5 separate regions of the Homo sapiens genome follow, and regions 2, 3, 4 and 5 are each linked to region 1. Evidence: fine-mapped expression QTL. A gene starts in region 1. Each other region holds a variant in brackets. All regions are shown on one strand. Distances are between the middles of the regions. Region 1 holds the start of LINC01270 (long intergenic non-protein coding RNA 1270). Region 2 has its middle 29 kb from the start of CEBPB-AS1. Region 3 has its middle 15 kb from the start of CEBPB-AS1. Region 4 has its middle 18 kb from the start of LINC01271. Region 5 has its middle 3.0 kb from the start of CEBPB-AS1.

Evidence for each region. PIP is the estimated chance that this variant, and not a neighbour inherited with it, causes the effect.
Region 2: its variant is fine-mapped to the expression of LINC01270 in whole blood (TOPMed, PIP 0.93).
Region 3: its variant is fine-mapped to the expression of LINC01270 in whole blood (TOPMed, PIP above 0.99).
Region 4: its variant is fine-mapped to the expression of LINC01270 in whole blood (INTERVAL, PIP above 0.99).
Region 5: its variant is fine-mapped to the expression of LINC01270 in whole blood (INTERVAL, PIP 0.94).

The regions. Positions count from the first base shown.
Region 1 is chr20:50,290,646-50,294,761 of GRCh38, forward strand. It overlaps LINC01270 (long intergenic non-protein coding RNA 1270), which reads left to right and starts at 2,075. Exons shown (of 5, transcript NR_034124.1): 1 at 2,075-2,185. RefSeq lists enhancers at 1,628-2,364, 3,478-3,978.
Region 2 is chr20:50,218,701-50,222,816 of GRCh38, forward strand. No RefSeq gene overlaps it. Among named protein-coding and RNA genes, the nearest start is that of CEBPB-AS1, 29 kb to the left of the region's middle. The variant C/G (reference allele first, on the strand shown) is at 2,311.
Region 3 is chr20:50,205,454-50,209,569 of GRCh38, forward strand. No RefSeq gene overlaps it. Among named protein-coding and RNA genes, the nearest start is that of CEBPB-AS1, 15 kb to the left of the region's middle. The variant TAAG/T (reference allele first, on the strand shown) is at 1,868.
Region 4 is chr20:50,337,148-50,341,263 of GRCh38, forward strand. No RefSeq gene overlaps it. Among named protein-coding and RNA genes, the nearest start is that of LINC01271, 18 kb to the left of the region's middle. RefSeq lists an enhancer at 1,967-2,166. The variant T/C (reference allele first, on the strand shown) is at 1,740.
Region 5 is chr20:50,193,057-50,197,172 of GRCh38, forward strand. No RefSeq gene overlaps it. Among named protein-coding and RNA genes, the nearest start is that of CEBPB-AS1, 3.0 kb to the left of the region's middle. RefSeq lists an enhancer at 481-1,042. The variant G/C (reference allele first, on the strand shown) is at 2,489.

The sequences.
Region 1 (4,116 bases):
CACCTGGCTAAGTTTTGTATTTTTTGATAGAGACAGGGTTTCACCATGTTGGCCAGGCTGGTCTCCAACTCCTGACTGCAAGTGATCCACCTGCCTCGGCCTCCCAAAGTGCTGGGATTACAGTAGTGAGCCACCACACCTGGCCAGCAGATTTCTTTAAGTATTTTAGAGGCAATATTTTTTCCCCAAAATCTCCCTTGTGCAAATTTTCTACCTCACAGCTGCCAAAATTTGAGGTGGTGGACAAAAATAGTTGATATATAATGATAGAAAGACGTAAGTGAGGTATATATATAGAGAGAGTCTAGAAAGAGTTCGCTTTCAAAGGGGAGGATCAGGGCAGTCTCCCTGGAGGAGGAGGTTTTGAATACGTGCGTTGAAGGGTGGGTGAAATCCAGACCAGGCAGGTGGGTTAGGGAAAGTGAGGGCATGCCGGGTGAAGGGCCCTGTGTGTGCACAAGGGTGAGGTGGGAATGATGAGTGTGAGAGTTTGTACCAAGGGGGCTGGGGCTGGGGTGCCAAGAACCAAAGAGCCATGATAAGGCCTGTCTGGGGCTCAGCCAAACTGGGGAGTAGTACACGAGAAGAGGAATGGGGAGCCCTAGAGGGTTTTAAGTAGGGGAGGAACGTGGAGTCCATAGCAAGGCAGAGTGGCTGGTGGGGAGGTGGGGAGGATGCCATGGCAACCATTCACGCCAAGCCTCAGCCCCGACCCTCAAGGAGGCAGGCAAGGCTGAGCTTCCCTTTCCAGATTGTTTGTGGGTGCAAAAGGGCAGCAAAGAATGTGGGTGCCTTGTCCTTCTGCCCATGGTCTAGTGTCCTTCCCCTCACCCCAGTCCCAGTGGAGCCATCATAGGTGAAATATAAGAACAAGTCACCTGCGTTCAGTGGCTGCAGAATACCTGGCCTCGCACAGAAGGCTGCGGGGATTTCTGCTCATTCATTCTTCCCACCTGCCGCATGAGGGAGGTGCTATGTCCATTTTACAGAGGACACTGAGTCCCAGAGAGGCTAAGCGGCATGCCCGAGGTTACACAGCCAAGAAGGGGCACAGCAAGATTCAACCCAAAAGTCTGCACTCCAGCCACTGCCCTATCATGACACTCACGAGCTCCCACCAAGTCTGGCTCCAGTGTTTCCAGTACCATAATCATCCCCATTTACCAGATGGGTAAACTGAGGCTCTGAGAGGTGGAGTCACTTGCCTGAGGCCATACAGCAGGAAGGGTAAAAGTAAAGATTTGAATCCCTGGGTCTAGTCGACTCTGGAGCCTGCTGTTCTCCCACCATACACCTCAGCTGCTCGCCCTCCTGGGCATCTGTTTCCTCATCTGATGAACAGGGGTGACGGCGATGCCTCCCTGGCAAGGTCCGCAGAGGATCCCGGGTGGTGTATGTCAATCACCCAGCTCAGTGCCTGGCACTCAGTGGATGCTTTAAACGTGATGCCTGTGTTTATTCGTATAAAGGTGGCTGAATATTAAATGGGTGGATTTATGGAAGGCACTTATGGTAATGCCCTGTACATAATAGATGCTCAAGAAACACTAGAAGCAGTTACTATGATTATAGGATCGACCACAGGGGACAGCCCAGTAACCCCTCAAAGTTGCTTCCTTCCCAAGTTGCCTTCCATTTATTTCTCCCTTCATCCAACACACTGGCCTTAGGGTCCAGGTTAGGATTTGGGGGCTTGGGGGGCTTAGGTTACAATTTGAGGTGATTTGTCCCCCCCTGCCCATCAGTCAGAGTGATGCTGAGAGCACTGGATGATAAGACCAGAATTCTAGGTCCGCGCCCCGGACCTGCTGTGTGATCTCTGGCAACTGCCTTGCCCTCTCTGGGCCTTGGTTTCTCCTTTCATCTGCAGAGCCTGGGCCAGGCTGCCCTGGGAGGTGCCAGCCCCGAATGGGGCCGGGGGCAGTTCCTGTGTCCCCTTGGCCACCAGCCTCCATCTCCTGCCTCTTGAGCTGCAGGCCCGCCCGGCTCAGCTGTGACGACGAACCAGCCAATCTGTTTACTGAACTGGCTGACCCCTTCCGGGAACTCGGCCCAAGCTTCCCAGAACTCGGGTATTAATGACCCGGAGCCACATGACGGAGCATGACACAGCACTTTTGGGCACAAGGCAGGGCCCAGAGGGGTGCGTGGGGGCCGCAGCCCAGCCCCCAAGCCCCGCCAGCGGGTGAGTCACCTGGGCCCCCTGCAGCTTCCTGATCCCGGCCACTCAGCTGTCCTCCCCACCCCCAGGATATCCCCAGTTGTCAGGGCTGCCCTGGGACCCCTCGACCTTTGCACTAGGGACTTAGCAGCCGTCTTGGGTGATCAGGGCTGCCTTCTGGGATTACAGATGGGGACAGTGAGGCCTGCAGGACTGGAGTGAATGAACAGTGAGCTCTGAGTAAACGTCCACTGTGCGGGAGGCACTGTGCAAATACGTCACGTTAGTCTCGCAGCGATGCAACACAGTGGCGTAGTTTAATCCCCATATGATAGATGGGGAAACTGAGGCTCAGAGCGGGAATGAATTCTCCCAAGGGCATGCAACAAGAGCACTCTGTTTGACTGGAAATAATTTCCTTTCGTCTCCTCAGCAGCCGACAAGGGAGGTGCCATGTGGACTGTTTCACAGCTGGAGAAACTGAGGCACAGAGGGGCTGAGTCACCTGCCTAACGCACTGAGCAGTCTGGCTCCAGGACCTGTGCTCTGAACCAGCACCTGGCACATAGCTGGCACCGACATGGTCTCCGTGCACTGCCATGGATGAGAGCAATGCTGGCTGCGGTGTCGGGCGGAGCTGGGTTCCAATGCTGACTTCACCTTTCTCAGGCTGCACAGCCTGGAGCACGTGGCTGCACCCTACCGTGCGTCAGTTTCCTCACCTGTGAAGGGTGATCGTGGTGGTCCTGATCTTGCAGAACTGCAGTGAGGGCTGTGAGTGTGGGGTGTCTCAACTGCACCTGGACACGCAGAAGGCACTCTGTGAACACTGACTTTCATTGGCCCAGGCCTCTGAATCCATGACAGTTCAATCTCTGAACCCCACAGCTTCCTCCTTCACCCTTTGCCGCCCCAGGGCAAGGTGAGGGCGGTGGTTTTTATGGGCCTGGGAACCAGACAGGCTCGGGCTCAGAGGGGGCGCCTGCTGCTGGCGGGAGTGGGGCCTCCTGGTTCCCACTCCCTGATTTTGGGCTGGGGGCCGGTGGTGGGCAGGGGTGGGGCAGCACTTTGATGTTCTTCCCTTCATTCCACCACCACTGCTTGAGCACCTACTGTATGCCAGGCTCCAGGGGACCCAGCAGTGAACAAGGTCTCTGCCCTCACTATGGTGGAGGAGAGGATGGAGGAGATAAACATCGGTGAGCAAATGCTTGAAGAGGCGAGAGGATTTCACCAGAGAGAAGGGCCGTGATGGGAATCAGCAGGGGTGTTTGGGAGCTGAGTGGGTCAGAGAGGGCTTTTCTGAGGCGGTGATGTGGAGCAGATGCCTGAAGGAGAAGAAGGACCAGACCTGGGGAAGAGATTTCCAGCAGAGGGAAACTCACCACAGCACGTGCAAAGGCCCTGAGGGTGGGAATGGGTTTGGGAAGTTCCAGGAAAGGCAAGGAGGCTGAAGGGGTGTGAGGAGGGGACAGCAGCAGGACATGGTGCTGGAGGGCCAGCAGGGGTTGGACCATGCAGGGCTTGGTGGGCTGAGTGAGCAGCCGCGGCTGGGACTTGGGCAGGAGCCTATGTGAGAGATGGCAAGACTGCCTGAGATCGCATTCAGAACTTCTACCCATCTCACAGATGAGCTCAGTGAGGCCCGAGCCAGCTTCCCCTAGAAGGTCAGTGGCTGGACAGGCATGAGAATCGAGGGAGTTCAACTCCCCCGGAGAAGCCAGAAGCCAGAACACAGGCCGTGGAGGAGAGGGTCCCACATTCATCCCTGCAGCCCCGAGAGCTGTGGGCTGTGGGGCTGCCTGGATGGCTTCCTGGCGGAGGAGGTGACCTCCAAGCTGTGGCTGGGGCAGAAGGGCTGGGAGAGCGTTCCCAGTAGGGGAAGCAGCACACAGACAGGCCCAGAGGTGGCGGTGAGGTGCAGGCGTTGTCTGGGAAATTCATCACTGCTTGGG
Region 2 (4,116 bases), 72 kb before region 1:
GCTGAGGCATGAGAATTGCTTGAACCCAGGAGGCAGAGGTTGCAGTGAGCCGAGATTGTGCCACTGCACTCCAGCCTGGGGGACAGAGCGAGAACTTATCTAAACAAACAAACAAACAAAAAAACATGAGCTGGGTCACGCTCCTCCCCTGCTCCACAGCCTCCAGGGCTCCTACTGCCTTCAGAATAAAGATTGGCCTCCTTATCCAGACCCACAGGTGCTGCACAGTGGCGGCCCCCTCCCCTGATCTCTGGCCACTCTCACTGTCACTTGCCCTGCTAGAGCCACCTTGGTTTTCTTTCCATTGCACCCAGCTCCCACCTGCCACAGGGCCTTGGCACACTTTGCTTTCTCTACTGGAACACTTTCGTTTCTCCTCTTCACCTAGTTAATGCCAGATCTCAGATCAGGTGGACCTCTGGTAGCAGGTGCTGTGGGGATTCCCCAGAGCCTCTTTGGTGGGATCTGCATGCATCTTCCTGCTGCCACACAGTGTTGGCTGCTGTGGGCTCCCAGCTGGGGCCCCTTAAAGCTGGAGTCCTGCCTCGCTGAGCAGGAGCTGCCTCCCATCCCCCAAACAGAGGTGGACACAGCCAGTGACCAATGAGACCAGGACTCAGGCCTCTTACTTTGAGGTGGGAGGAGTGTGGTGGTGCAATTCACGTTCCAGAGCTCCCCGGGGGATCAGGCCAAGTGAGACTCAGCGGAGGCCATATCCTGGCTTAGCTCCCACCTTGCCCTGTCCTGCTTCTCGCACCCTTCTCCCAAAAGCATGTCCTCAGTGAATCACGTGCATGCCAGTCCCCAAGTCAGGCTCCTCTTCTGGGCAACCTGACCTAAGATGCCTTCCCTGCCCTCCCTGTCCCCCTTTCTGGTCTCTTCTCCATGGATCTCTCCTTGCAGCCCTGACTATGGCTGTGTTTTTACACTTGCTTGGATGATTATTTGATTGAAATCTGTCCCCCACCCCAGAATGTAAGGCAGGGATCATGTTCCTTCTGTGTTCCCAGCGCCCATCGTGGGCTTGGCACATAGTAGGTGCTCAATCCATATTTGTTGAATGACTGAATGAATCATAGCTGGGTGAGTCAGAGCTGGGCACTATCAAGGCCCCAGTTTCTTCCTATCTCATGGTTCTGCCGTCTCCACTCAGCCCAGCTCCTCATGGTGCCACGATGGCTGCCAAAGCTCCTGCCATCTCTTCCTCATACAGCCAAGCAGGAAAGGCCCTCACATGTCCTGTTAAGAATGAAGAAACCATTCCCAGAAGCCCCTTGGCAGACTTCCCCATCTCACTGGCCACAGATGCATTCCATGTCCAGCCTCTGCCAATTGCTGCAAGTGGGGAAGGGGACCTAATCAGCATCTGTGCCTCGAATGTCGTGGGTGGAGTCCACCCACACCCACTGAGCGGGGATCTGGCTGCCTACGAGCGCAGACCCCTGAACTTGGGTCATTTTGACTATTCCTAGGGCTGTGGGTCCCCCACCTGTCCTTCCTCCCTGGGGAGCCCTTGGGTGGTGGAGGTGAGAAGGGGGCGGTGCTGGGTGAGGGTTTCAAGCAAATGAGGCGGCCAGACACCTTCACCTCAGTAAACATTTACAGAGCCAGGAATGCAGAGGAGGTGGTGAGCCCAGCAGATGAGTGTGTGGGGAAGACACCACCTAGGCCAGAGGTACAGATAGTGAGACAGGGAGACATGGGGGTGAGATGGAGAGACACAGAGAGACACCCTGAAAGAACTGATGTGAGAGACACAGAGGGAAAGAGAGAGGCTGAGAAATAAAGAGGGGAGAGACCCAGAGACAGAGGCTTTGCCGGGCAAGCTTTTGCATCAGGCCTGGAGCAGGCAGAGGCCCTCTTCCAGTGGGCGTGGTGACCGCACCTCGTTCTCTTTGGCTGAAAGTCCCAGGCAAGCCCCTTTTCCAGACTGGGCCTTGGATCCTCCTGTGTCAAATGGAGCTGTGTCCACACACTGGGCCTAACATGGACCTGTGGCCTCCTGTGACCCAGAAACAGCCTTGTGTGGTGGAAGGGAATTGTCACCCCCAGTGGAAGGGGGAGGCAGTGCCCAGGGGCATGGCGAGAGGGTGGAAGGGGGATCTGGACCACGGAGTGCATGTTTCTAAAGCCTGTGTCCTGTCTGTGCCCCACAGGGCCAGTGTGGGGCCAGGAGGGGTGAGGGTGGGGCATGGGGGTACCCTTAGGGGTGGTGCTGGCCGCCAGCTCTGTGTGCCAGTGACGAGTGTTCTGGTCATAAGAATGGCTGCTGGGTTTGAATGCTCCCCAGGTGCCAGGCACCAACCCCAC[C/G]AGGGTGGTGCTGCTTAATTTCTATTTAGTTTGGACTTCCCATTTACAAACGAGGAAACTACATCTCAGCGTGGCAGCGACTTCCTAACAACGGGGTGTAGGCTTTGGGGTCGGAAAGGTCTGGGTCCGAGTCCCCGCTCCATCCCTGACAGGCTGGGGGACCTAGGCAGTCATTTCCTCCTCCTAAGCATCAGTTTCCCCATTTGTAAAGTGGGGAAATAAGTTTAAGGGTGACATGGGGATCGGATGAGGTGCTGCCAGAGGGTTCTTAGCACAGGGCCGGGTACACAGGAAGCACTGGATGAACGTTAACCGGGCCATTGGATACAAGCTTTTAAGTAATTTAAAATAATTCCTTTAATGGCTCTCCTTATTTTTTTTATTTTTTTTTTAAGGGAAAGAGCTGAGGTCCAGGGAGGGGAAGGGACTTGCCCAAAGTCATTGGCCAGGTGGAGGGTCTGAGGTTTGAACCCTGTGGGCCCTGAGGCCCTCTATACCACCCACGATGGCTCAGGCCTGGATGGCCTGTTTGCGACTCAATCCTCATGGGTTGAGAAGATGCCCATAGCCTGGCCTGATAGCCCTCTGGCCTGACATCAGCTACAACCACCAGTTGGGGCAGTTGCAAAATCCCTCACCCTTTGCCTGTCGATAAAGGGTGCCCATTGCAAAACTCAGCGGAGAAATTATTAAGGGTTGTGTCATCCTGTGGCCAGGCCCTGGGTGCCTCTTTCCTGCCCGGAAGCCTGGGTAGGGCCGACTGCTCACTCTCTCCCTCCATGGCCCTGACCCGAGAGAGAATGGGGTGGGGGTCAGCAGGGAGCTTGCAGGGAATGCGGACGACAGACCCCAGCACTGGGGCCGTCATAGTCCCTGATTCTTAGGAAATGGCAGCTCCATCCTTCTGGGTGCTCAGGCCCAAACCTCGGGTTGTCCCTTCATTTCCTCTCTTGCCCTGCATTCGATAACTGGCCAGGAAATCCTGTCAGCGCCACCTTTAAAACATCCAGAACCTGCGTAGGTTTTCCCCTCCGCTTCCACAGCTGAATTCAAGGCCACCATTCTCTCTCCTGCAGTAGCCTCCTTGCTGCTTTCACTGCTGTCATCGTCACGCCCCACTTCCCCCGTGCAGCCAAAGGGATGCTGTTAGAACCCCACTCAGATCCCATCTTTCCTCTGTTTAGAACCTTCCTTGGCTCCAGCTGCAGAGCAAAACCTGAGGTCTTTCCCAGGATCACAGGGCCCTGTCTGATCTGGCCCCCATGGCCTTTCTGACCTCATCCTCCCTCCTTTCTTACTTGCTCACTCACTCCAGCCACACCGGGCCCCTTGCTATTCCTCCAACACACTGGGCATGACCTAACTAGGGCCTTTGCACTTGCTGTTCCTGCTGCCTGGAATGCAGTTCCTTCAGCTCTTTCCCCCAGCTGGATGTGCCACTTTATTCAGATCTCATCGCAATGTCACCTCCTCAGGGAAGCCTTCCCCGGCTACCTGCTGAACTGTCACCTCCACCATCACTCCAGCCCTTTCATCTTTCTTCCCTACTTGCCATCATGTTATACATCTGTTATTTGTTTGGTCAATGCCTGTCTATCTCTTTAGTATGTCACCTTCCACACTGCAGGGACTGCTGTCTGTGGTGATCACGATGCTTTCTGAGCACTCAGCACAGGGCCCCGCACACAGTAGGGGCTCCACAGAGATTTGTTCAATCAGTGAATGGGCGCGCAGGAGGGGTGGCTGTTGGCCCAGATGATGCTTCAGCAAACATCACAAGTGTCCTTTCTCTGGCTGATGGCTCGA
Region 3 (4,116 bases), 85 kb before region 1:
GCCAAGGTGGGTGGATCACAAGGATAAGAGATAGAGACCTGGCCAACATGGTGAAACCATCTCTACTAAAAATACAAAAATTAGCCAGGCATGGTGGCCTGCACCTATAGTCCCAGCTACTTGGGAGGCTGAGGCAGGAGAATTGCTTGAACCCGGGAGGCGGAGGTTGCAGTGAGCTGAGCCTAGATTGCACCACAGCACTCCAGCCTGGCAACAGAGCGAGATTCCGTCTCAAAAAAAAAAAAAAAAAAAAAAATAGCTGGCCTGCATCCTCGAACATGTCAAGGTCATGTGGGTCAAGGAGAGACTGAGAAAGGAACTGTTTCAGGCCAAAAGAGCCTATATACAACTAAAGGAAGCTACATGCGTGCGATCTTGGGACATGATAGGGTCCCCATCACATTAGGGCCCCAGGTCTTTGTGTTTCTAAGGCTGGAGCTCGAGCTACCTCAGGCTCAGGATGGGGGACACTTCCCCTTAAGCAATGAGAAGGAGAGAGGCTGACTTGGAGAGAACAGGGAGTCAGGGAGCTTGGGCTGGATTGTTATTCCCCAAGAAGAGTTGCAACTGGACTTTCGCTTCAGTAATGTTTAAAAGAAAAATGCTAATCTAGATAGGGACTGCCATTCATTCATTCATTCATTCATTTATATTCCTCTTAACAACTTGTGACTTTGGGCATGTGGCTTAACTTCTCGGTTCCTCAGTTTCCTGTTTACAAAATAATGATGGTAATAATAGTACCTATCTCACAAGATGTGGAGAGGATTAATGGAGATGATAGGTGCAAAGTGCTTAGAATACTGCCTGGCATATAGTAAATGCTCAATAAATATCAATTATCATCACAAGGAATTTACTCCACAATTCATTTACTGAGAATGTGCAACATGCCAGAGTTAGTTGTCACTCTCCACCTGGAACTAGAACCACGGAAAACCTTAGATCCCATAAAACCAGAGCCTAGCAAAGATGACAGGATCTTAGTGTGTCACTACCCTGCCCATCAGTCTGGCTGCCAATGATGGTTTAAGATCCCACGCCCCCTACAATTTGAGCCCAAGGCCTCCTCCTGACAGCCATGTGAATGCCCCACGCCTCAGTTCCCCAGATGTTGTGACAGCCTCAAACACTCTCCAACGGCACTGATTTGAACCCTTGTAAACGCAGAAAAAAACAAGTCTTAGGCGGCAAAACCCCATTTGTGCAATGTGGACTCCCTTCCTCAAGTCCTGGGTGATGCTGAAGGGTCTGAATCTGCCTTTTCTTTCCCGCCTGTTGGGCCCTGGTAGAAAGTAGCAGCTGGGCCAGGGTTGGTGGCTCACGCCTGTAATCCCAGCACTTTGAGAGGCCAAGGCAGGTGGATCACTGGAGGTCAGGAGTTTGAGACCAGACTGGCCAACATGGCAAAACCCCGTCTCTACTAAAAATACAAAAATTAGCTGGGTGTGGAGGCACGCACCTGTAATCCCAGCTACTTGGGAGGCTGAGGCAGGAGAATGGGTTGAACCCAGGAGGCGGAGGTCGCATGAGCCGAGATCACGCCACTGCACTCCAGCCTGGGTGACAGAGCAAGACTCTGTCCCAAAAAAAGAAAAGAAACTTCAGGATATCCTTCAGCTATATTGTTTATATTTTTCCCCACTTTGTCTTTTCCCCCATTTGTATTTTTTTCTTTTGCCTGAATTATTTGAGAGGCAGCTGTAGACATGACATCACTTTATCCCCAAACCCTCCAGGCATGAGCCACCATGCCCAGCCCATGCACACTATAGATTAATGTTAAAAGCATTATGCTGAGGGAAAGAAGCCAGACACAAAAGACGACTTTCTGTGTGATTCCTCTGATATGAAGTTCAAGAACAGG[TAAG/T]ATGAATCTAGAAGGCACAAAAGTGGTTCCTTCTGTGGGGTAGAGGAGTCATTGCCTGCAGTGGGACATGAGGAAGACTTCTGGGATCTGCAAAATTCCTATGTTTTACCCCAGGTGGTAGTTCCATGAATTTATCCATATATAAGAATTCAGGCCAGGCATAGTGGCTCACACCTGTAACCCCAGCACTTTGGGAGGCCGAGGTGGGAGGATCACTTGAGCCCAGGAGTTCCAGACCAGCCTGGGCAATGTAGGGAGACACAGTCTCTACAAAAAATAAATAATATTAGCTAGATATGGTGGTATACACCTGTAGTCCCAGTTACTCAGGAGGCTGAGGTGGGAGGATCGCTTGAACCCAGGAAGTCAAGGCTGTAGTGAGCCATGGTTGTGGCACTGCACTCCAGCCTGAGTGACAGAGCAAGACCCTGTCTCAACAACAACAACAACAACAACAACAACAAAGAAGAGTTCATTGAGCTGTCTGTTTATGCGCTTTACTGTACATATGTTAAACGCCAGCATCAAAGTAGAAACCTAAAATCAATGAACTCATGCTGCACATTGAACATAGGAGAGTCAGGTGGGCAGGGAGTAGGGATTGGGGTGAAAGGGAATAAATGAATACAACTAGAGGGCAGCCTGTGTGGGCAATCATGATAACATGTTGCGAATTGAGGCATCAGATAACGTCACCCTGCACACCTGAGGTTCAAAAAGAAAAGCCAAAAAAGACCCAGGAGCTCAGAGGGGGAGTGTACCTTGTCTGAGGTCACACAGCTGGTGGGTGGCAGAGGCAGGATTTGAACCTGGGTCTGAGGAACCCCAGAGTGTGCTCCTTACCCAGTGCTCTGGCCTGGACTCTCCGGGCTGGACAGCTCTGCTGTGCTCCCAGAGGTCCCTAGGGTCTGGCAGGGGATGGCGAAATGACTGCTTGGCAAAGACCATTGCAGCTCAGAGCTCACAGCTCCAAGTCGGGAGGGGAGTCAGTGGAGCAAAGGGTGGCTCCCATCCCTGGAGCCTTCCCTCCCTGGCCTAGGGTGGCTCTGCCACCCTCCGTCCACCTCCCGCCGGCCTTTGCCTTCCTTCCTGGGCCAGCGTGTGGACTCTGGAGCCCTGCAGGGTTGGGTGTGAATCCCAGTTCTTCTTCTTTCTGGCTCTGCAACCTGGGGTGAGTGGCCTACTTTGTACCTCCGTTTCCACTTTCAGAGCCTGCCTATGACAGCATTTACTTAATAGCATTGGTGAGCAGAGTCGAGGAGTCAAAAGTGTGCAGAACTCAACACCATGCCGGCATGTGCTAATTGTCCAATAATGGCAGCTGCTATTGCTGTTGTTGATGTTATTGCTCCTTGGGAGAGGGGAGCCCCTGTTGCTCTAAGGCCTTACAAACACCAACATGTGAAAACAGCTGGCATGGAATGGAAAGTTCTAGAGAAAGGAGCTTTCTGACTGCCTGAAGGTTATCAGAAAACTTTCTATGCTGGTTTTTGTGAAAGCTCTTGGTAAGCTAGGGTAGAACCAGGGTGGCTTCATGGGAGTACCATCTAGGCAATTCCACAGAGCCCCTTGTTTGGAAGGGCCCCCACTTGGTTTACAGGTCTGCTGTTGTCATCTTGAAATTCTCTCTCTCTTCTTTTTTTTAGATAGAGTCTTGCTCTGTTGTCCAGGCTGGAGTGCAGTGGTGTGATCATGACTCACTGCAGCCTCAACCTCCCAAGCTCAAGTGATCCTCCCGCCTCAGCCTCCTGATTATCTGGGATTACATGCACATGCCACCATGCCCGGGTAATTTTTATTTATTTTTATTTTTATTTTTTGAGACAGAGTCTCACTCTGTTGCCCGGGCTGGAGTGCAGTGGCGCCATCTCTGCTCACTGCAACCTCTGCCTCCTGGGCTCAAGCGATTCTCTTGCCTCCTGAATAGCTGGGATTTCAGACACCCATCACCACGCCTGGCTAATTTTATACATATATATATATATATATATATATATATATATATATATATATATATTTTTTTTTTTTTTTTTTTTTTGTTTTTTTTTGAGACAGAGTCTCACTCTGTCACCAGGCTGGAGTGCAGTGGCAAGATCTCGGCTCACTGCAAACTCCACCTCCCAGGTTCTAAGTGATTCTCCTGCCTCAGCCTCCTGAGTAGCTGGGACTACAGGTGAGTGCCACCATGCCCAGCTAATTTTTGTATTTTTAGTAGAGACAGGGTTTCACCGTATTGGCCAGGATGG
Region 4 (4,116 bases), 47 kb after region 1:
GAGTGAAAAAAACCAGTCCTCAAAGGTTACATAAACTATATGATTCCATTTATGTAACATTCTTGAAACCACACAATTATAGAAATGGAGAACAGATTAGTGGTTGCCATGGCTCGGGGGCAGGGTTGGGGGTGGGAGATGGGTTTGGTTATACAAGGGCAATGAGGGATCCTCGTGGTGATAGAAATGTCTGTATCTTGACTATATCACTGTCAATATCTTTATTGTGACTGTTAACATTGGGGGAAACTGGAAAGGGTATATGGACTCTCTCTGTTTATTTCTTACAACTGCATGTAAATCTATAATAATCTCAAAAGAATACATTTTAAAAAGAATATATTATACAATTTTCTATACCCAGACACTACTAAATATAATTATATCTTTGGTAACACAGACACACTGTTCTCAGATAACGGAAGTAGTGCGGTGATTATGTGTGTGACTTGACAATGGGATGGGCTGGGTTCAAATCTCAGCTACCAGTCCCTTCACCTCCTTGGGCCTCAGTTTCCACACCTGCAGGTGCTGAGCAATGAGAGGAACTGTCTCGTGGGGTTGCTGGGGGGACACGATGACGTGATTCATGAGACATGCAGAGCACAATGCTCACTTGCAGTGGCTGCCCAGTAAATGAAATTGCCACTTTTCCGGGCTGTAGAAAAGGCTACAGGTAGAGGCAGGCAGAGGATTGGACCCGAGAGCATCCTCTGAGAGCTCTAGATTGGGATCATGTCTCACCAGCCAGGGGGTTTGTTTTGACTTCTTTCTTGCAGGGAAGTGTCTGCTGAGTGGTCCATTCCACTCCCCTGAGTTTGGCCTGGTCGCTTCTTGTCTGCCCTCTGGACCCCGGTGGGTGCAAACTTTCATGGGTGTCTCTCCACCTGGAGCCTGTGGTTGGGACTGCTCAGGTGGGGACACAGCCTGGGGGGTGATCCTCTGTAAGGCAAAATGGAGCAGGAGTGGAACCCATGCCTACTGCATACCTATTGTGTGCCTTGTGACTTACGTGCTGCAGCTCACGGAATTCTCCCAACAACTTTGAGCAGTAGGTGCTATAATCACTCCTGCGTGATCCAGAGAAAACCGAGACTTGGTGAGGGGAATGGACTTGTCCAAGGTTGTGCAACTAGTAGGTGGCAGAGCTGAGATCTGAGCCCTGGTCTGTCTGATTTAAATCCAGAATCATTTTCACTGTTGATAATAACCTCACCACTTATTAAGTATCTACTAGAGTAATCAATATGCTAGCTCTTTCCATTGAGGTATGATCACCTTTCCATTTTAGAGAAGAGGAAATAGGGGTTAGGCAAGGTGCATTGCCAAGATGGACAACAGCTCTCAAAAAACAGCCAACCTTGCAGCCAACGGGCAGCTTTCTTGTGTGCCCCCAACCCCACCTGTAGCTCCAGCCCAGCTCAGCCAAGATCACTCAAGCTTTGGGACTTTTAAATGCTGAGTCAGCAAACAGCCCCTACCTTGAGATACTCTGCCTAGGCAGACTGTGGTTGTTTGCACTTCAGCTTCAGGCCTCCAGGGTCAGCTGAGATAGCAAGACCTTCCCCTGGGGGCTGGATGGGGTCATTGGGAGCCACTGAGAGACCCTTTCCCCACTTGGCCTGGCAGACAGAGTGGCAGTTGGAAGAGGCTCGAGGTGGCTGTGGTGGTAACAACTTCCTTTTGAGTAATAACATTTACTGAAAAGCAATTCTGCTTTTAGCACCAGAAGTTCACCA[T/C]CCTTGCAAGCAGGCGCCTAAGAATACCTTCATTCAACCACAGTTCAGAGATTCACAGACTTCCTTTTGCACTCCCTCCAGGAGAGTTTCACATTTGGTGTTGAGGGAAAACCAAATACCACAATTATTGGAGGGGGTGGGAGGGGTGTTGAGAGGGAGGTGATGCGAAGGAGGCCAGGTGGCATCAACCACAGCCCCCAAGGCCTCACAGGCAGCCTCTGGGCAGCGGCTCAGCCTCTCGCCCTCAGTTACTGGAAAGACAGCGGACGAGCTCATAATGAAACCGACAGGCTGACAATTTATCTTCCTTTTACAAGAAAAAGAAAGTGATTGTCCTTCAAACAAGCATGACTTTGGAAGCCAGGGACTTACCCTGGCCACTCTGCAAATTAGAGACAGAGCCAGGCTGCTCCAGAGGCCCCGAGCCCCTGCCTGTCACCCCCAATTAGCGCTGGAGTTCTTTAGGCTCGTTTTTTCTATTGCCCAAAATCCAGTCTACTGGGGCATAATGGGGACTTATGGAAAGAAAAAAATCCAATCTGCACTTGGGAGGGGATAGCCTTAAATGTTAGGCACTCACCGCAGGCAGCTGGGGGTGGCTGAGGGCAAGGGAGAAGGCATGGGTGGGGAAGGAGGGGATGTGCCAGGCAGAGCCAGGAGGCTCCAAAAAGCAGCTCTAAAAAGCTCTCCCCCTCCCAGCAATCCAGCCTCCTGACTCACGCCAGACACAGAGGCAGCTGATGGGATGGGAAGAGGCTGGCTTTGGGAGCCACAGGGATGTGGGGGCAAACTCCAGCTCTGCCACTTGCTGGCTGTGTGACCTTGGGTGGGTAACTTCACCTCTCTGAGACTCAGTTTCCTCACCTTTAAGATGAGGATGAGTATAGGAGGTCAGGACATGACCTTCCTGTGCTCAAAACCCTCCCACGGCTCCCACCTCACTTGGCAGAAAGTCAAAGATCTCTGTGGCCTACCAGGCCCTACAAGATCTTTCCCATGCTTCCCTTATAACCTCATCTCTCTCTCTCTGTCTCTTTTTTTTTTTTTTTTTTTAAGACAGGGTCTCACTTTGTCACCCAGGCTGGAGTGCAGTGGTGCCAACACATCTCACTACAGCCTCAACCTCCTGGGCTCAAGTCATCCTCTCACCTCAGCCTCCCAGATAGGTAGGACTACAGACACATGCCTCCACGGCCAGCTAATTTTTGTATTTTTTGTAGTAGAGATGGGGTTTTGCCATGTTGCCCAGGCTGGTCTCGAACTCCTGAGCTCAAGTGATCTGCCCACCTTGGCCTTCCAAAGTGCTTGGGATTACAGGTGTGAGTCACCGCGCCTGGCCCATCTCCTCTTACTCACTCTCTCTGGTTCCCTCTACCCCTGCCACACTGGGCTCCTCTTTGTTCCTCCAACATGCTAAGCACACGCCTACCTCGGGGCTTTTGCACACACTGTTTCCGCTGCCTTCAGCATCCTTCCTCCAGATAGCCACAGGGCTTCTTCCCTCTCCTGATCTGGGTGTCTGCTTAAATGACCCCGGGGGTCCTGCTCTGACCCCCGGCCCTTCCAAATTGCTCCCCTGGCCTTACCTCTTCACCCTGCGTGAATGTTTTCCCATAACACTGACCACTACTTGACACAATAATTTAGGGGGTTCATAACTCCCCATTGGCCAGACTGTAAGCTCCCAGCAGGCAGAGGCCAGTTCTCCACTGTCCTCCATTAAATCTCAGAGCCTGGCACATAGGGGGCACTCATCCAGCATTGAATGAACAGATGCAGGGTTTTGTGGTGAGAAGGGAAGAAGGACGTGTGTGGCGGGTTCAGCACCAGCCCAGGGTGCGTGCTCACTGTCACTTCTTCTCTCCTCTGCCCAGCACCAGCCCCATGTCATGTGCTTGTTGAATTCCTACAATGGAAGGATGCATTTTACAGATGCAGGAATGAGACCACAGAGCCCAAGCGACTGTCTCAGCCCGCAGCGGGGCAAGGCTTTGAATTCTGGTCTGCGGGTCTCTTGGCCTCCAGGACAATGGTGACAGTGTCCAGTCTGACTTGGGGTCTGGGTGAGAGAAATGGCTGGTGGGGCCATCAGACTCTTGAGAAGAGGCCCTGGCTTTGAGGATCTCCAGCCGACATCTGGGCTTAGGACTGGGGTTCACGCCCCGTCCTCCTGTCCCACAGTCCCACATTCTGCCCCAAAGCAGAATGCAAGCCCCATCAAGGAGGCTCAGGGTTTCCAGAGAGGGGCTTCCTCAACTTTCTGTTGCTGGAAAGTTCTGTCCCAGAAAGGGCAGACGCTTGAGGAGCTCCTGGATCCGGCAGAAGGCTCTGAGACTAGGAGACCCCTGGTGTCCTCGCTCCCCGGCACCCCGCCAGT
Region 5 (4,116 bases), 98 kb before region 1:
CTGTGACCCCTGCCCTGTGTTTGGGGACTAGGTAGGCAGGCCTGTGACTGTAGGAGGAGGGGGTTCAGGTCTTGGTCCTGCTGAGCCCGAGTCAGGGCAGATGCTTTTGGTCAGTGTAGTGGGGTGGGTTGTTTAAAACACAGTTTGTGTATACATGTGTATTTTAAAGAGGGGAGCCTGGGTGTGTGGGCGAGTCTGTGTTTGTGTGTCCCTGGCCAGCAGGAGGGGAGAGGCCAGGCCAGGTGGAGAGAGGTGGGGGAGGGGTTCCCACACTTTGATTACCTTTCCTGAGGATGGGAGGCTCATCACTTGCTCTCTTTGCCCAGACTTGGACACTGAGCCCACCTCACCTGCCTGCTCAAGGTGGCTGAGCCCAGGCACAAACGTGGGGCTGCTAGCCCTGATTCCCTGGGACAGGCTCCTCTTCCCTGCCCACTGATCCCTTTGCCCCTTCCGGCTTCTCACCGCACCCCCTACTCCCATCCAGCCCTGGATGGCATTCCTGAGAGTTGAGGATGTAGATGGATGTGAGTGGATACATGTACAGCGTCCCACAGTGCCTGGCACGCAAGAAGTGTTATATAAGCGCTTGCTCTTGTTATTATTTTTTGCTGGGAAGCTGCTGGCATTTGGCACCCCAGTCTCCAGTGCAGCGCCAGTGTGGCCAGTACTTGCCAGGGGCCGGCATCTGGTAAACACTGGACCTGCCCCATCCCATTTAGACCTCACAATAACCTTTGGGAAGGTGGGGATTGTTATGACGCCTGTTTTTAGAGGTGGGGAGCAGCTTTGGGCTGTCCGATCCCTATGGGCAAGACACTGGTTGGGGGTTGCCCTGCCCTGAGGAATTCAGGGGCAGCAGGCATCGTAGCCTGGTTTGCCAAGGACCTGGGGCGGTCTGGGATCTCAGGAGCAGTTGCTGATACCGTGGTTCGCGAATGGGAAATGCTTTGCCCCTCCTTTTCCTTTTGGGGGCCTGGTTGTGCTTTCCCTGTGGGAGCCTGGGATGTGGGGAACAGACAGCGACACTCATCCCCCACCGCCACAAAGCGGAGGATTCCTATAAGCTCCACCTCCCTAATGCCAGTGTCTCCTGATGGTGGCTCGAGGGCTATGCAGATTGCTGGACACAGATAACCTCACTTCAACCTGGGACCTGCAGCGTGGCCCTGACCACGTCCCCTCCCAGCCCTGGGCAACTGGACAACTGGCCGGGCATGCCTTCAAAGCCTCGAAGTCAGTTCAGTCCCAAGCCCCACTGGTCTCGATGGTTTCTGTCAGTAGCAGCGACAGCAATGTGGGCTTGACCTCAAGGATTTACTTGCTGAAGGCAGAGGCTGAGGGGCTGGACCTAGGGAAGGAGGGAGGTGGAGAGGGTCGAAATTGAGGAACAAATCTCAAATCCCTGCTCCCTCCTTTGTCACCAAGAGTTGGCTGGTGGCCACTGCTCACCCAAATGAGGTGAGAGGGAAGCAGCCTGGCCAGACGGTGCCCCTCTTCCGCCCCCGTCTGCCCCACAGCTTCGCTTCTGTTTCCCCAGTGCTGTCCTGGAACCAGCGTTGAGTCAGTTCTTCACACACTCACATCTTGCTCTCATCCACAGTACCCCACAGAAGGTGCTAGACCCATTTCTAAAAGCACACATTGAGGTCCACAGAAGTGAGGTTTGTGCTCAAGGTGGGCTAGGTGGAGCAGGTTACAAAACCATCCGACTCCCAAGTCTATGGGGAAAGTTTGGGGCTGGGAGCCTGGTTTGTAATCCCAGTTCCTGTTTAAAATCCCAGGCTCTTCTTGGAGGGCTCCTTGCCTGACCTCAAGTTCAGGCACTCCAAGCCCCAGAACTGCAAACATCAGTTTCACAGTTTGGAAGCAACAGAAAGTGAATTTGAACCTGAACCCCTTGGGCTGCCTCTAAGGAGGGCTGGGAGAAGCAGTTCACAGGTTGAGGGCTTTGACGGTGGCTTGGTATGGGAGCACTGTGGACGGAGCTGTGCCCAAAGGACTTGGGGAGATGTCATAGTTAGGGCAACACCAACCCCACAGTTCACCAAGCTGCAAGGGTGAAGGGCTCGCAGGGAGGAACCAGTCCATTCCGACATCCAGAAACAGGAGGGGGTGGGATGGGGTGAGGCGAGCCCAGGAGGCCAGGGACGAGCCTTGAGGAATCATGATAATAGCAGGTGTGAGACAAGGGCTTAGATGTGCAAAGCACCACTCCAAGCCCTTGGCACAGAGGGAGGTGCTGGGTCCTTAGATATGTGGGAGAAAGCCGGTCATGTTAACCACAGACCCATTTAGTGTGTTTGACCACTGAGGCTAGCTGGGAGGTGGGAGCCTGGAACCCCAACTAATGTTTGCTCAGGACAAGAGAGTTCACAAAACAAGACACATTCACACCTCATAATCTTATGCAATTGTCCCACGGCCTGGTGATTTTAGCAAGGAGATAAGTGGATGTCAGAAATGAACGCTCGAGACACTGCTGGGT[G/C]CCGGTTCCACACTGACACTGTGCTCCTTGGTTTAATCAACTCATTAGCCTTTTGGAGGCTGCAGCTTTTGTTACTAGCATTTTGCTGCTGTGCAAACCAGCTTAGAGAGGTGAACTGACCTGTCTTAAGTTTGCACAGCTAAGAATGGCAGAAGCTGGAGTGGGAGTGAGAAGGGGAACTGCTCCTTCTGAACACCTGAAGAATATTTCCCTGCAGGCTGGGCGAGGTGGCTCACGCCTGTAATTCCAACATTTTGGGAGGCTGAGGACGGCAGATCATTTGAGGTCAGGAGTTTGAGACCAACCCCGGGCAAAATGGTCTCTACTAAAAAAATACAAAAATTAGCCTAGTGTGGCGGTGGGTGCCTGTAGTCCCAGCTACTCAGGAGGCTGAGACATGAGTATCACTTGAATCACAGAGGCGGAGGTTGCAGTGAGCCAAGGTCGCACCACTGCACTCCAACCTGGGCGACAGAGCGAGCGTGCCTCTGTCTCAAAAAAAAAAAAAAAGAATATTCCCCTGCCTTCCAAGTTTTGTCCAGACCTCTCTGAGACTGTTTTCTCCCAGTTTCTCAGTCGTTTTTTTGCCCAGTTATATTTTTCATTTATTTGACAAACATTTATTGAGCACCCGCTGTGTGCTAGGCCCCTTACTGGGTGTTGGGGACATGTGGTGGCCAAGATGGAGGTGATAATTTTCAGGGAGACACAGATGCTAAGTATCCAGTGACTGGAACAAGATAATGGCAGATGGAGTCAAGGGCTCTGCAGGAAGGAAAGTGGGGCAGAGGTGAGTGGGAGCGGTCCTGCGAGGCCCCTCCTAGGAAGTGGCATCTGAGCAGAGACCCCTGAGCCCAGGGAGTCAGGAGTATGGTGGGCTGCAGTTTACTGGATGCTCACTTTGCACCTGCTGGTGTCCTGCATGCCTTATTCTTAAAATCCCAATGATGTAGGTGCTTTTTTTTTTTTTTTTTTTTTTAAAGGAGTCTCACTCTGTCACCCAGGCTGTAGTGCAGTGGCATGATCCCGGCTCACTGCAAGATCCGCCTCCTGGATTCAAGCACTTCTCCTGCTTCAGCTTCCCAAGTAGCTGGCATTACAGGCTTGCTCCACCATGCCCGGCTAATTTTTGTGTTTTTCATAAAGATGGGGTTTCACCATGTTGGCCAGGCTGGTCTCGAACTCCTGACCTCAAGTAATCTGCCCATCTCAGTCTCCCAAAATGCTGGGATTACAGGCCTGAGCCACTGCACCCGGCCATGGGTGCTACTTATTACTCCCCCTCCCCAGATGGGGAAAATGAGGCACAGAAAGGTGAAGTCACCGGTCCAAGAGCTGGTGAGTGGCTGATGTGAGGTTTGAATTCTCACCTTGCATTTGAACCTGAGAGGCCTTCTCTGCCTGTTTTCCCCCATGGCCCTGAGCCTCTCCTTTGCTGTTTTCCTGTCCTGCCCTTCCACCCCCTCCTGAGTTCTTTCTCAGCTTGGCCAATCTCCTGCGTGGCCTGTGATGGCGTCCCAGCAGTCCCCGCTCCCTGTGGGATTTTTGATGGTGCATTGGCCGGGGCAGGGTAGTGAGGGAGGCCTGGGCTGGGCAGACCCAGGAGAGGCCAGAGTGGGCTGGGGAAG